3 separate regions of the Homo sapiens genome follow, and all the other regions are reported to be linked to region 2. The links are microRNA targets in miRTarBase. Many come from high-throughput screens and were not tested one by one. Region 2 holds a microRNA gene; each other region holds the end of a gene's coding sequence.
The links. Region 2 holds the annotated microRNA hsa-miR-4778-3p (UCUUCUUCCUUUGCAGAGUUGA, at 1,161-1,182, shown strand). A microRNA usually pairs through its seed, bases 2 to 8, with sites in the 3' UTR of a target mRNA and lowers its output. Matches are read on the target gene's strand: a 7mer-m8 pairs with bases 2 to 8, a 7mer-A1 pairs with bases 2 to 7 and ends in A, and an 8mer does both.

Region 1: miRTarBase lists SUN2 as a target of hsa-miR-4778-3p. Seed matches in the 3' UTR shown: 7mer-A1 at 1,331-1,337.
Region 3: the mRNA of PNMA5 is a reported target of hsa-miR-4778-3p. Seed matches in the 3' UTR shown: 7mer-m8 at 792-798, 7mer-A1 at 1,104-1,110, 7mer-m8 at 1,208-1,214 and 7mer-A1 at 1,218-1,224.

The regions. Positions count from the first base shown.
Region 1 is chr22:38,732,640-38,736,734 of GRCh38, reverse strand. SUN2 (Sad1 and UNC84 domain containing 2) reads left to right here. Exons shown (of 18, transcript NM_015374.3): 18 at 355-2,001. The coding sequence ends at 468. It overlaps GTPBP1 (GTP binding protein 1), which reads right to left. Exons shown (of 12, transcript NM_004286.5): 12 at 3,148-4,095. Among named protein-coding and RNA genes, the nearest start is that of SUN2, 21 kb to the left of the region's middle.
Region 2 is chr2:66,355,342-66,359,438 of GRCh38, reverse strand. It overlaps MIR4778 (microRNA 4778), which reads left to right and starts at 1,111; the gene lies at 1,111-1,190.
Region 3 is chrX:152,986,641-152,990,737 of GRCh38, reverse strand. PNMA5 (PNMA family member 5) reads left to right here. Exons shown (of 4, transcript NM_001184924.2): 4 at 1-1,914. The coding sequence ends at 486. Among named protein-coding and RNA genes, the nearest start is that of PNMA5, 5.4 kb to the left of the region's middle. RefSeq lists an enhancer at 386-885.

The DNA.
Region 1 (4,095 bases), not on the chromosome of region 2:
GACAGAGGCCCGATGGGCACTGGAGAAAAAGAATCAAGTGTGCCCCACATCAGCATCTATGAAGCCCTCTATGAAGGTGGTTCTATCTGTTGATCACAATAAAAAAACGATTGTGGATGAATTCATTCCGGTTTCAGATGAAGTGTGCTACAGGTGGCCCCTTAACCCACTGGCTGGAAACACTGCTCAGGAGGCTAAAGATAGGAGCTTTTGAAGCCTGGTTCTCTTCAGAGCCCCAGGGAAGGAGCAGGGGAGCCATCTGGCCCTAGGCGAGGCTGTCTCCCCTTCCCACCTTCTCTGTCAGTGAGGCCTCACAGGTCTCTGATGCTCTTAATCCCTTTCTTCTCTACCCAGGCCCCTACGATGGCCACGTACCAGGTGGTGGAGCTGCGGATCCTGACTAACTGGGGCCACCCCGAGTACACCTGCATCTACCGCTTCAGAGTGCATGGGGAGCCCGCCCACTAGCCCTGCTTACTGGTGCCTGCTGCCAGCCATCTGGGAGTGGGTGAACAGCACCCCGCCGCTTCCCCCACACGCTTGCTCGGCGCTCTGACTTCTAGGAGCACAAGAGAGGAGCCTGTGGCCCCATGCAGATGAAAAGGACGGGCAGGGTCTCCTGAGCAGCAGGTGGCTCGAGGCGGTTAGCAGGCTCCAGCAGCTCCCTTCTTCCTTCCCTCTGTGCCCGTGGCGTCTGCTTCCCATCCTGGGAGTGTGTATATATGTAGCATATCATGGGGGACTGGGAAGTTGGGAGAGGTAGGACCTGACTGGTCTTGGCTGGGGTCAGGGGCTGGTGCCTGGGAGCTGATGAAGCAGGTGCCAGGGCTGTGGGAGGGGCAAGCTACGGCCTGGGCTAGGTGAGCTGCCTCTGCCCCTGGGCAAGGAAGCGAGGCCCTCTGGGAGGAGGGTGCTTAGCTCCAGAGCAGGATGGGACTTCCCCAGGCAGGAAGCACTTGATGGAGAGCTGCCCAGCTCTCCTACAAGGTTAGTGCCCTCCACCTAGGGAAGCATGAACCACAGGGTCCCTGAGGGCCTTCGACAAAAGTGTGTATTTGTCCCGGGGAGGGTAGCAGTGGGCCATGGGGCTTCTTGTGCCCTAAAGGGGACTGGCTGCTGTGATCTTCTAAGGGGCCCAGGGCCAACCCTGTAGGCTTCCCCTCTGCTGGGGACGGTAGTTGCTTTTCTCTCTCCTGATGCTAGGTTGGGGCCCACCCTGCTCCCTGTTCCTGCTAGGGCCTGCCAGTGCCCCTGAGCTTGCTTTCCACATTCTCCCAGGGTATGGAGACCTAGACCTGTCTTTGGGGCCATTAGCATCTGGGGTTATAGCAAGAAGAGTGGGGAGCATGGAACTCCTGGGCTCTTGTGGGGACGTTCAGGGTATCGGGGTGCGAGGTCTGTCTGCACCGGCCCCCACATCTAACCAGGCCCTGATGTAGGGGTCGTCCGCTCAGGCTGCCCCCTTGGGCTCTTGCAGCTCTTGTTCAGGTAGTCGCCCTTCTGGTTTGTTCTCTGTGGGGCAGTTGGTGGGGGCTGGGGGAAGAGGCTGGCAGAAGTTACCCTGGATAGGGAAGGGGGAGGAGGGGACTTTTAGAGCCAGCAGGCCCCACTGTATTATGTATATATTTTTCAAGGTCTGTTTTTCTAACTGAAAAGCTAAGGGCTTGATTCCTAGCCCCGTTCTGTGGGGCACTGGGTGATACTCAGTTTCTTGTTCCTGGCCGTGGAGAGGGGCCTGGGGCACTGGTTCCGGCTGTGTCTGGTGGTCTGGCTGCGGGGAAGGGGCAAGAAGGCGGGCAGGCCTTCACTGCAGCACTGAGCCTCAAATCCGCTCTGGAGCATGAGGCTGGATGCAGTGGTGGTGAGGCCGCCCCGCTCCATCCCGAGGCAGCCAGGGTTTGTTTTGCGCTCTCCTGTCACAAATGCTGCACTATTGGTTCTTAAGTTTTTTATCTCCAGATCCTAATTTATGCCTATGCAAAAAATAAATGACGCCCAAGAGCTGTGGGATGTGGCTTTCATGTGGCTTTTGCCTATCACCTAGGGCAGCTGCTCTTGGGCAGATGAGGGAATGAATTCTTGGCCAAACGAATGTCCCCAAAGACTTATTCCTGAAGTTCAGAAACCCACAACTTTCAGCTAAAGCCCAGTTGTGGTGGGGGATGGGACCTGAGGCAGGTCTCCTCCAGTGTTTGTGGGTCAAGGGCTGGCATGAGGAAGCAGTGAGGTGGCTTTATTAGCTGTCATTGATAACCCATCACAAAGGGTGGGGCGGGAGCAGTGGGGCTTTCCTGTCTCTCAGTACCACTGAACAGCAGCAGAAAAAGTTACACTTACCTACCAGCCACGTCCACTTGGAGTGCAGTGATTCTCCTCCATGGGAATTCGCTATTTGCCCCTTGGACCTGTGACTGGGAAGGGACAAGGAGGTAGGTCCCTTGAACAGCCAGCAGCTTAGGAGAAAAACAGGCCCTGACCTTTCCCACAGATAGCTCCCCAGACCTGGTTCGCGTGGTTCTCTAGCCTGATCCTGGAGCCTCTCATACTGACCGTGGCACCTGGCCCAGGGCTGCTCCTCATCATGGCTGAGAAAACAAAGGCAGAAAGCCAGTCAGTAGGGAGGACTGTGGAGACAGCCACAAGGCAGGAGCTGGGTGAGGCACAAATCCAGCCCCCAAAGCCTTGGGCCAGCTCCTCAGCCTCTTGGGAGACAGCTGGTCCTGTGCTCACTCCCCTTCACTGACACCTGCTCTGCCTCTGACGCCATCTAAACAAAGGAGACATCCCCACGCAGCACCAATAAACAAGCCCCTGGAAGTTGCCACACACTGTGGCAAGAGTCCAGAGCCTGGGCTGGGCACATGCCCTCTGCCCATCTGTACATTCAAATCCTACTGGGCCCTCACAGCACAGCCCTCACACTGCCGGCTCCATGGTACTTCCCCCAACCCAACTAAACCTGTGCTGCCCCTGTGCGTGGCATATTCATCCCTGTGACCTTCTCTGTGCCAGGGTGGCTGATAAGCCAGAACAGTCCTGACTGTGGAGTCAGGGGTCTGGCCATCCCCATCCCACCATCACAGGCCTTACTCCTGGGAAAGACGCCACAAACACCTGCTGCACACACAGAAGGGTCAGGCCTTGCCATTGGAGGTGATTGGATTAACAATTTTATTCTGCATCCACTACAAAAGGGCTGGTGTTTTGTTCCAAATGTTTAGCTGGGAGGGCTGTAGGGACCCCTGTTACCCCCATTAAACACAGTAAAGCATGGATCCAGTCAGCCCCCTGCTGGCAGGTGTGGGCCTGGCAACTACACAGATCCAACCCCACCCTCCTGGGTGCGGCCAGAGGCCAAGGCAGTCGCCCGAGCTCCTGAATCCCAAGAATGGTTCTGGCAAGTACTGCTGTTTGTTTGTAGGGGCAAAGAGTTAAAATAAAACGAGGTTCTGCCATGGCTAAGCCTTGTGGAAACCAGACCCCAAAGCCCCTGCCATGCCAGGGGTCTCAACGCCAGACGCTTGTTATGGAGGCACCAGCAGGTAGTGGCCCCTGTAAGCAGGGCCAGAGTCGGGACAAAGAGCAGGAGTGAAGCAGCCAAGAGACAGAGGACCAGGCTGGAGCCAGTGGGCACGCAGGAGCCTGCCTGGGAAAAGCCGGGGGGCAAGGCTGGCATGGGAATGAACACCTGCTGGTGACACCTCTCTGAGCTTCAGTTCCCTTAACTAGAAAAATAGAACAGGCCCGGTGCGGTGGCTCATACCTGTAATCCCAGCACTTTGGGAGGCTGAGGCGGGTGGATCATGAGGTCAGGAGATCAAGACCACCCTGGCCGACATGGCGAAACCCTGTCTCTACTAAAATACAAAAAGTTAGCTGGGCGTGGTGGCGTGCACCTGTAGTCCCAGCTACTCAGAAGGCTGAGGCAGAGAATCACTTGAAACTGGCAGGCGGAGGTTGCAGTGAGCAGAGATCACACCACTGCACTCCAGCCTGGCAACACAGCGAGACTCCGTCTCAAAAAAGAAAAAGAAAAACAGAACAAACATCGACCTCAGGGGCGGCTGCTGGGAATGTCAACAGGAGCGTGTGAGA
Region 2 (4,097 bases):
CGAAGCAAACTGCTTCTTTGTTTCTTTGGATATAAAAGCTTATCAAATGGCTTTTTCAATATCATCCTCTTTTCAAAAGTGGATGAAGGGTTTATAGTCTTCAAAATATGATAACACTCAGAAGTGCATTTTTCTCAGTATTGTTTTGAAAGCATAAGCACTTATAAACAATGATTTTTAACCTTGGATGGGGGGACCAATAAGTTATTGTTAGGTGTCTATTAATCTACTTGTTGTGCAAGCATTCTCTAGAGTCTGAGTAAATAATATTTTAAAAGCTTTACTGAGATTATTGGCCATTTTTGTCAGTATGTTTTCTTAAGTCATACTAAAAGTTCAACTCATATCACTAAGGGGGTATGAAATTATTTTTTTCTTGGGGCGGGGAAGTATGAGATATAAAATTCTCAACTTCCAAGTGATATGATTTGGCTCTGTGTCCCCACCCAAATCTCATGTTGAATTGTAACCCCCAGTGTTGGGGGAGGGACCCGGTAAGAGGTGATTGGATTATGGGGGTAGATTTTTCCCATGCTGTTCTTGTGATAGTGAGTTATCATGAGATCTGGTTGTTTAAGAGTGTGTAGCACTTCCCTCTTTGCTCTCTCTCTCCTGCTGCCATGTAAAGATGTGCTTGCTTCCCATTTGCCCTGCCTCCATGATTGTAAGTTTCCTGAGGCCTCCCCTGCCATGTCTTCTATACAACCTGTGGAGCTGTGAGTCAATTAAATCCCTCTTTATAAACTACCCATACTCAGGTAGTTCTTTATAGCAGTGTGAGAACAGACTAATACACCAAGTAATAAAACCTCAACTTAAAGTAGCTGAAGTCAAAAGGAGAAGTTGTTGGCTCAGATTGTTCAGAGGTATGTTGAGCTCCATTTGCCTTTGTTCAGCTTCAGGCAAGCTTTTTCCATAAGGTGGTGAGAGCATCCTGGTGCTTGCCACATGAATACATGATCCTGAAGCTTTGTGAACTCAAGAGAGACTTTATCCCAACAATCAAACTCCAAAGCAGTGTTTGGATTGGTTATCCCTACTTCATGTATTTCTCTCTGGACTAATCACAGGCATTAAGACATATAAGGTAAACTGACTGGTCAGTGTAAATCACATGTCCAATTCTGTAAAGGAAGAAGAGGTAAGAAGAAGTGAAGCCCTCTTCTTCCTTTGCAGAGTTGAATATGTGGCTTATAGTCCTTCTAGAGTCAACATGGAGAGAGAGAGGAGACACTTTCCAAACAAAAAAAGGATGTGATGAATAGACAAGCAATTCTTGTCCACTGAAAAAAGGGTTCTTATATTTGCTTCATATTTATAAGTCTTAGGGATATTATTCTAGAATTACATTATTATTTTCTTGATGTTTGCACTACAGTTCTCCTCTAGGTATTAGAGGTCAGCTAAGCACAAATGAGATGAATGGGAATACTCTGGGAGGCACTGTTTCTGCAGCCAATCCCAAAGAGGTTTGTATGCCTGTGTGTGTTTGGGTGCGAGAAGAAGAAGAATGAAGTGTCAGAAGGAGAGCTGTCAAAATGAAATATCAAAATTCCCTTAAAATCCAAATCTCAATTCTGTTCTGTAAGTTTAAAACAAAACAAAATGAACTTGCACACATACACACACCACTAGGACCACCACTACAATCACCACTACCAAACAGATGCAAGCTATAAGGTTTTAATTCCAAAAAGACCCAGAATATTTCTATTCCTTATTTGTCTTTAATTATTGTGTTCTTTTTGTATGGGCACCCTAGATTGGGAGATTCAGCCCTAGGATTAGAGCTCGGAGTAGCATGGATCTCATTCCCAGGTCTCCATTTCTTGGCTAGCTTCTTTTCCCTGGACAATCCATTCCTTCACAGGAGTCAGTAATTCTGCAACTAATCTAATGCCCATTTACTTTCCTTATCTGACTCTGTCTGTCAGTCTTTTCACTTTCATCTCTTCTGGCATTACTCCTCATTTCCTTAATTTTCCCTACATTTTCCCATTATGTGAAATAAAAACACTTCAAATCCTTATTTCACTTTTCTCAGCTATAGGTATTACAGACAACTGGCATACCATGAAGATAAGCTGACTCTTACAAGAGTAATACAATGATGATGAAAATGAACATTGAGTCCTTATTATTTCCTAGACACTCTATCTATTATTATCTATTTAATCCTCACGCCAACCTAATGGGATGGAGTAGTAGATCCATGTTAGTTTTATTTGAGAGGTTTCAGCCTTTGAATGGCTGAGTTCAGCCTTTGAACCCATTTCTTACATTTGAGAAATTTCTAATAATATGAATTTTGCTTGAATTTCCCAGTATGGAAGTCAAAAAAATTCTTGTCCCAGGCTACCCTGCAGCTAAGGTATGAACACATCACCTATACTCAGCCAAACAGAGGTACCTGCCTCAGACTTTAAATTTGCATTGAGAGATGCAAAAATCAGGAAAGCAGAGAATTTATTTCTCCTTTAATGGTTGCAGAGGTGGCTTCAACATCAGCTTCCAGGGTTTACAGAGGCTGTGGTGGTGACATTAAATGTTTAAGTTCAGTAGCAATAACAGATAAGCCTCAGTATTCAGTGTCAGCAACAGTCAGGTGGAGTGATAGAGTCTCCACCTCACTCACATTGTGGCATCATTTTGGCTGTGGCTCAGGCTGTTACCTGCACCCCTTCTTTATGCCATTTCTGAGTCTGGTAGTTCAGCCTTCCCAATGTTTTCATAAACATAAAATACAGTGTTGTGGAGTTGAGCCACAAAGAAGCCTTTTCTACGTGCTTTCTCATACCCTTGCAATAAATTCCCTACTGTCTAATCAGCCATAGTTAGTTTATATCACTTGAAACAAAGAAATTTGATGGGAACAGAGATCATATTTTAAATTTCCTTCTATAGATTTGTAAACTCAGGCTTTTTTTTATTATTGTTATTTTTGGACAGAGTTTGGCTCTTGTCACCCAGGCTGGAGTGCAGTGGTGTGATCTCGGCTCACTGCAACCTCCGCCTCCTGGGTTCAAGCAATTCTCCTGCCTCAGCCTCCTGAGTAGCTGGGGTTACAGGCATGCACCACCATACCAGGCTAATTTTTTGTATTTTTAGTAGAGATGGGGTTTTGCCATGTTGGGCAGGCTGGTCTTGAACTCCTGACCTCAGGTGATCCACTCACCTTGGCCTCCCAAAGTGCTGGGATTACAGGCATGAGCCACCGTGCCCAGCCAATCCAGGCTTAAAGAAACAAATCTATTGCACAAGGTCAAACACAGAGTCTGGGGTCTGGCTGTTTGGAGAGCCAAGATTTGTCTCCCACCCTCATGCAAGCAGGGAAGAAAGTACTACCAATAAATGAGATTGGTCTGAAAGTAACTTAGAAAAATTAGGCATCCTTGATTAATGTCTCAGTTCTGGCTCTAACTAGCTTGATGTGGCTTGTCTCTGTGTCCCCACCCAAATCTCATATTGTAGTTCCATAATTTCCACGTGTTGTGGGAGGGACCCAGTGGAAGATGATTGAATCATGGGGGCAGGTCTTTCCCATGTTGTTCTCGTGATAGTGAATAGGTCTCACGAGATCTGATGATTTTAAAAACCAGAATTTCTCTGCATAAGCTCTCTCTTTGCCTGCTGCCATCCACGTAAGATGTGACTTGCACCTCCTTGCCTTCTGCCACGATTGTGAGGCCTCCCCAGCCGTGGGGGCTGTAAGTCCAATAAACCTCTTTCTTTTGTGAATTGGTTATGTCTTTATCAGCAATGTGAAAACAGACTAATACACTGGCCCTATGCTTTGCATAAGTCATAGTTTATTGGGATAATCTTTCTTTGTCTAGAAAGTAAAAAGTTTGGTCAGCATTGGTGCTTTCTAACTCTTAAGGATGGGGGCATATAGCCATACAAAAACATTTGAAAGGTACTGAACTTCTGTTTAGCAAAATTCACATTCAAATGTGTTATGTCCAACTTCACCCAAGCCCATCCTGGGATGTCAATGAACCCTAGGATGAGAACCTTGAATTAGATGACCTCTTGTTTTGGAGTTTTCCAAGTAAAACTTTGTGTGATTTCATTGTCTGGGTGAATTTGCTATAATT
Region 3 (4,097 bases), not on the chromosome of region 2:
CGTCTGAAACATCTCTTAGCTCGGGTCGCCATGACCCCCGCCCTCAGGGGCAAGCTGGAGCTCTTGGATCAGCGAGGGTGTCCTCCCAATTTTCTGGAGTTAATGAAGCTCATTCGAGATGAAGAAGAGTGGGAGAACACTGAGGCAGTGATGAAGAATAAGGAGAAGCCATCAGGGAGAGGCCGGGGGGCCTCCGGTAGACAGGCAAGAGCAGAAGCCAGTGTCTCTGCACCTCAGGCCACCGTGCAGGCAAGGTCTTTTAGCGACAGCAGCCCCCAGACCATACAGGGAGGCTTACCCCCATTAGTGAAACGCAGGCGGCTGTTAGGCAGTGAAAGCACTAGGGGAGAAGACCATGGCCAGGCCACGTATCCCAAGGCTGAAAACCAGACTCCAGGCAGGGAGGGGCCACAGGCTGCAGGAGAGGAGTTGGGAAACGAGGCAGGGGCTGGGGCCATGAGCCATCCCAAGCCCTGGGAAACATAGGCTCAGAAGACCGAAGCACTCCTTCCCCTGGCAGGCAGCAGGGACATTTGAACAAGGGGAAGGGGCAGCTTACACTAACAGGGAACTTGACTGGGGCAGAGGGACAGGGAAGCCAGGTCGAGATCAAGCCCCCTTACTTTCCACCAGCTGGAAGGGACTTCACCAACCAAGACCAAATAGCATCTGGTTCAGTGGGGGCCGGGCCCATAGCCCCTAACAGGTACAGGAGACACAAGCGGGGAACCACTACACTTAGCACATGGGGTGCCTGGGCTTCAGATGGGGACCCCAGCGAAGCAGGGGCTGAAGAAGGTGTGGCTGGGGGCTCTGGCCTGGTCCTCTGGACACCCCCAAATATCTACCCTGTGGACTTTGAGCTGAGCATGCCCACTGGCACCCAGGCCACGTGGGACCTGGAGGAGCCTGCCTGGGGCCTGCCTCTGCCAGAAGGAGCCAGGGCTGCTGAGGAAGAGCTGTGGGGCAGAAGTGAAGCCCCGCAGGGGAGGCCACAGGGTCCAGCCTGTCTTTAGGATCATCTACACTGCATGAGGGGAGCCCCAGGAAGGCAGCATTCATAAGCCCCTGCACCAGTGAGGAAGAGAAAGAGGAGGAGAATTAAGAAGAGGATGATCGGGAGGAGGAAGAGGAGAATAAGGAGGAGCAGGAGGAAGAGGGGGAGGAGAAGGAGGAAGAGGGGGAGGAGGAAGAGGGGAAGGAGGAGGAAGAAGTGTAAGAAGAGAAGAGAGGATGTGTTGGGGGTGGGTAGTTGTTTTTGGTTTGCGTCATCATCAGGCCCGGGCTCTGCTCACTGCTGTTCCGTGTCAAGAACTCCACCTCTGCTTTGCCGGTGTAGATCTCGGCCAGTGGCTGCTTGTTCTCTTGGGGATGTGTGTGTTTTTATCTGAGCAGCTCCTTTCCAGAGTACCCCAGCGCAGTTCCAGGAGACGGTGGGAAGGAGGCATGGCAGACGCTCACCTTGTGACTGTGACCTCGACTGCAGGAGGACCAACCAGACACGGGAAGGAGCAGGGCTGCCTGAGGCTCCCCAGGAAGCTTTGTGCTTTGGCGTTCCACCCCTGCTGTTACTCGTGACTCAGTTTCCTCAACTTGGTGGGGTGTTCCCTGCTATGTTTTCCAGCATCCTGTGACTGTCCTGTGCAGTCTATAGGGCAGGGCCCTGCCCCAGCGGGTGGGCTCAGGAGGGGGTTCCCTGAAGCGAGTACACATTGCCAGAGCCCACCATCCTGGCAAGAGGTGGATCCTGGGGCCCTATGGAAGGAGGGATGTGGTGGGGGGGGCCACACTGAGGGAGGGGCCGGGGACTTGTGACCTGTAGTGGCTGTTTGCAGTTTCTCTCTGTGTTAGATTCCCTTTTCTTCAGCAGTTTCAGTTCATGTTTCTCTTCAGTAAATTTTGTTCAGTGTTCCAGTGGTGTCTTGCCTCTGCTGTGTGAAACTGGGGTGGGAGGTGGTCTGCTGGGGATGGGGCCACAGTGGCCAGGCTGACATCGAGGTGTGTGTGGGGCAGGGTCTATGAGGGCCTGTGGGGTGCCTTGGGCTGCATGGAGCCTGGCAACAGGATGCTGGTGGTCATGAGCAGTGACTGGCTGGGTACCAAAGGCACTCCAGGTGTCCTCAGGAATAAGTGACTTGGACATTGAAGGCTGGGCAAGGGGCAGCAGGTGGGTCCCAGGCCCCTGATCCCTGGCAGCACTGTAGGGGTGTGGCTCAAGGCTTCCGGAAGGGTCAGAGAGGCCACGTGTGCAACCAAGGCCAGCAACCGAGGTCAGAGAAGAGCCCCAGGAGGGCCTGGACAGGCAGTCAGAGGCCCTGTGAAGAGCTGTGTGCAGGACTCGGGGTGGGGTAGGGGCTGGTGTGTGCCCATCCTCCCAGATCAGCCCGCAGGTGGCCAGCCTTGGCCTAGCCACTGAGGGATGTTTGGGGACAGTGTGTGTGTGATGGCCAAGGGGACAGAGTGTGGGCGAGAAAGGGATCCCAAGTGCTCATGTCTTGGGGAGGGGGAGAGGAAGGGCGGGGGAGCTGCACTTCATCCTGGGTCCTGTCCTGCTCCCTTCCCAGTGTACTGGGAGGCGCTCTACTCCTGTGTCCTGGGAGCAGGCAGTGGGCCATGAGCAGGAAGCCTAGATGGCCCTGGGGAGTGACCCCTTTCTGTCCTGCATCCCCGAGGCCCTCTGAGCCCTGGATGCTGCCTGAGGAGGGCTCCCTCAGGATGGACGGCGCTGCTAATCCAGACACCCCTCCTTCAGCACTGTGGCCAGAGGGGCAGTTCTTGGTGGGGGCCTGAGGATCCTGGAACCCGCCCTCCTGAGCCCTCCTGGGACTGGCTCTCTCTCCCAACAGGCCAGGGAGCTCGCCACAAATGGAGGGTAGTCCTCGATCAGCCATTTAACTAGCCCAGAGTCTGTGGGCGACAGAACTGGGACAAGTGATAGGCCCCTCCCTGCACATGTGTGGGGAGGGGACGGGATCATTGACTTGGACGTGGCGAGGGTCTCCCGGGGCTCACTCAGTCTGTGTCCACACACTTCCTCCGGCTGTTCTGGAGCACAGAGCCTCCGGCCATCCCCATGGCTCAGATGATAGCCAGGCTCCCCCAAAGCAGCCTCAGAGCCAATGCTGGGAATGGGTGGCTGCCCACCTGGGCTGAGGAATCCTGGATCTAGGCGACCTGTCTGCTTGAGCGGAGCTGCAGTCAGCAGGTCTGCAGGGCGGCAGGGGCCCTGGGAGACACTCGGCATACACAGGCCAGTGCAGGCATGGGAGGGGTAGTTTTGCGGGGCTGTCGGGGAGGGGCAGGGGGCGGCAGGTCTCTGGGGCTGGGCCTGCAGCCTCCCCGGCCTGAAGGTGCTTAACCGGTGTCTCAGGGACCCTTGTAGTGTGTCCCATCGGGGTGCCCTGCAGGCATGCCTGGGGCCCCCACTGTGCTCTGTTCTCCCTGCCTTCTTCAGGCTGGGCACAACCCCAGCATGTCCGTCCCTTGTGTCTCAGCAGGGCCAAGTCAACTGCTCACTTTCCAAGGGCCCCTCCAGATTTTGGGGACAGGGCAAGAGGAGAGGGCATAGAGCTTGGCTGACCTTGCCAGGGCCTGTCAGGGCTCCTTGGTTTTCCCTGTTCAGAGTGGACCTGTGTGTGCCGTGATTCCCAAGCAGGTGTGAGTGTGAGTGAGCGGGTGTGTTTGAGCGTGTGCGTGTGTGTGTCAGTGTGAGCATGTGCATGAGTTTCTGAGAATGTGTGTGAATCCAAGTGACAGAATGTGACTGCATCACTGAGCGTGTGTGAGTGGGAGGGTGTGGGGGAATGAGGCTGTGCCATTGAAGGTGAGCATGCATGTCGCTGAATGTGTGTGACACTGTGAGTGTGTCAGTGTGTGTCAGTGTGTGTGTGAGTTTGTGAGTCATTGTGCGTGCGTGCGCTGACTGCAAATGTGGGTGTGTCAATGAGCAGGCATGAATGCGTCATTCAATGTGTGTTTGTCACTCAATGTGTGTGCGCATGTGAGTGTGTCTGGAACATGAGTGTGTGAGTGAATGTGTGTGTGACTGTGTCAGTGGGCATGTGAGCACACAGGCTGGACAGTTGGGTTGTGAAACC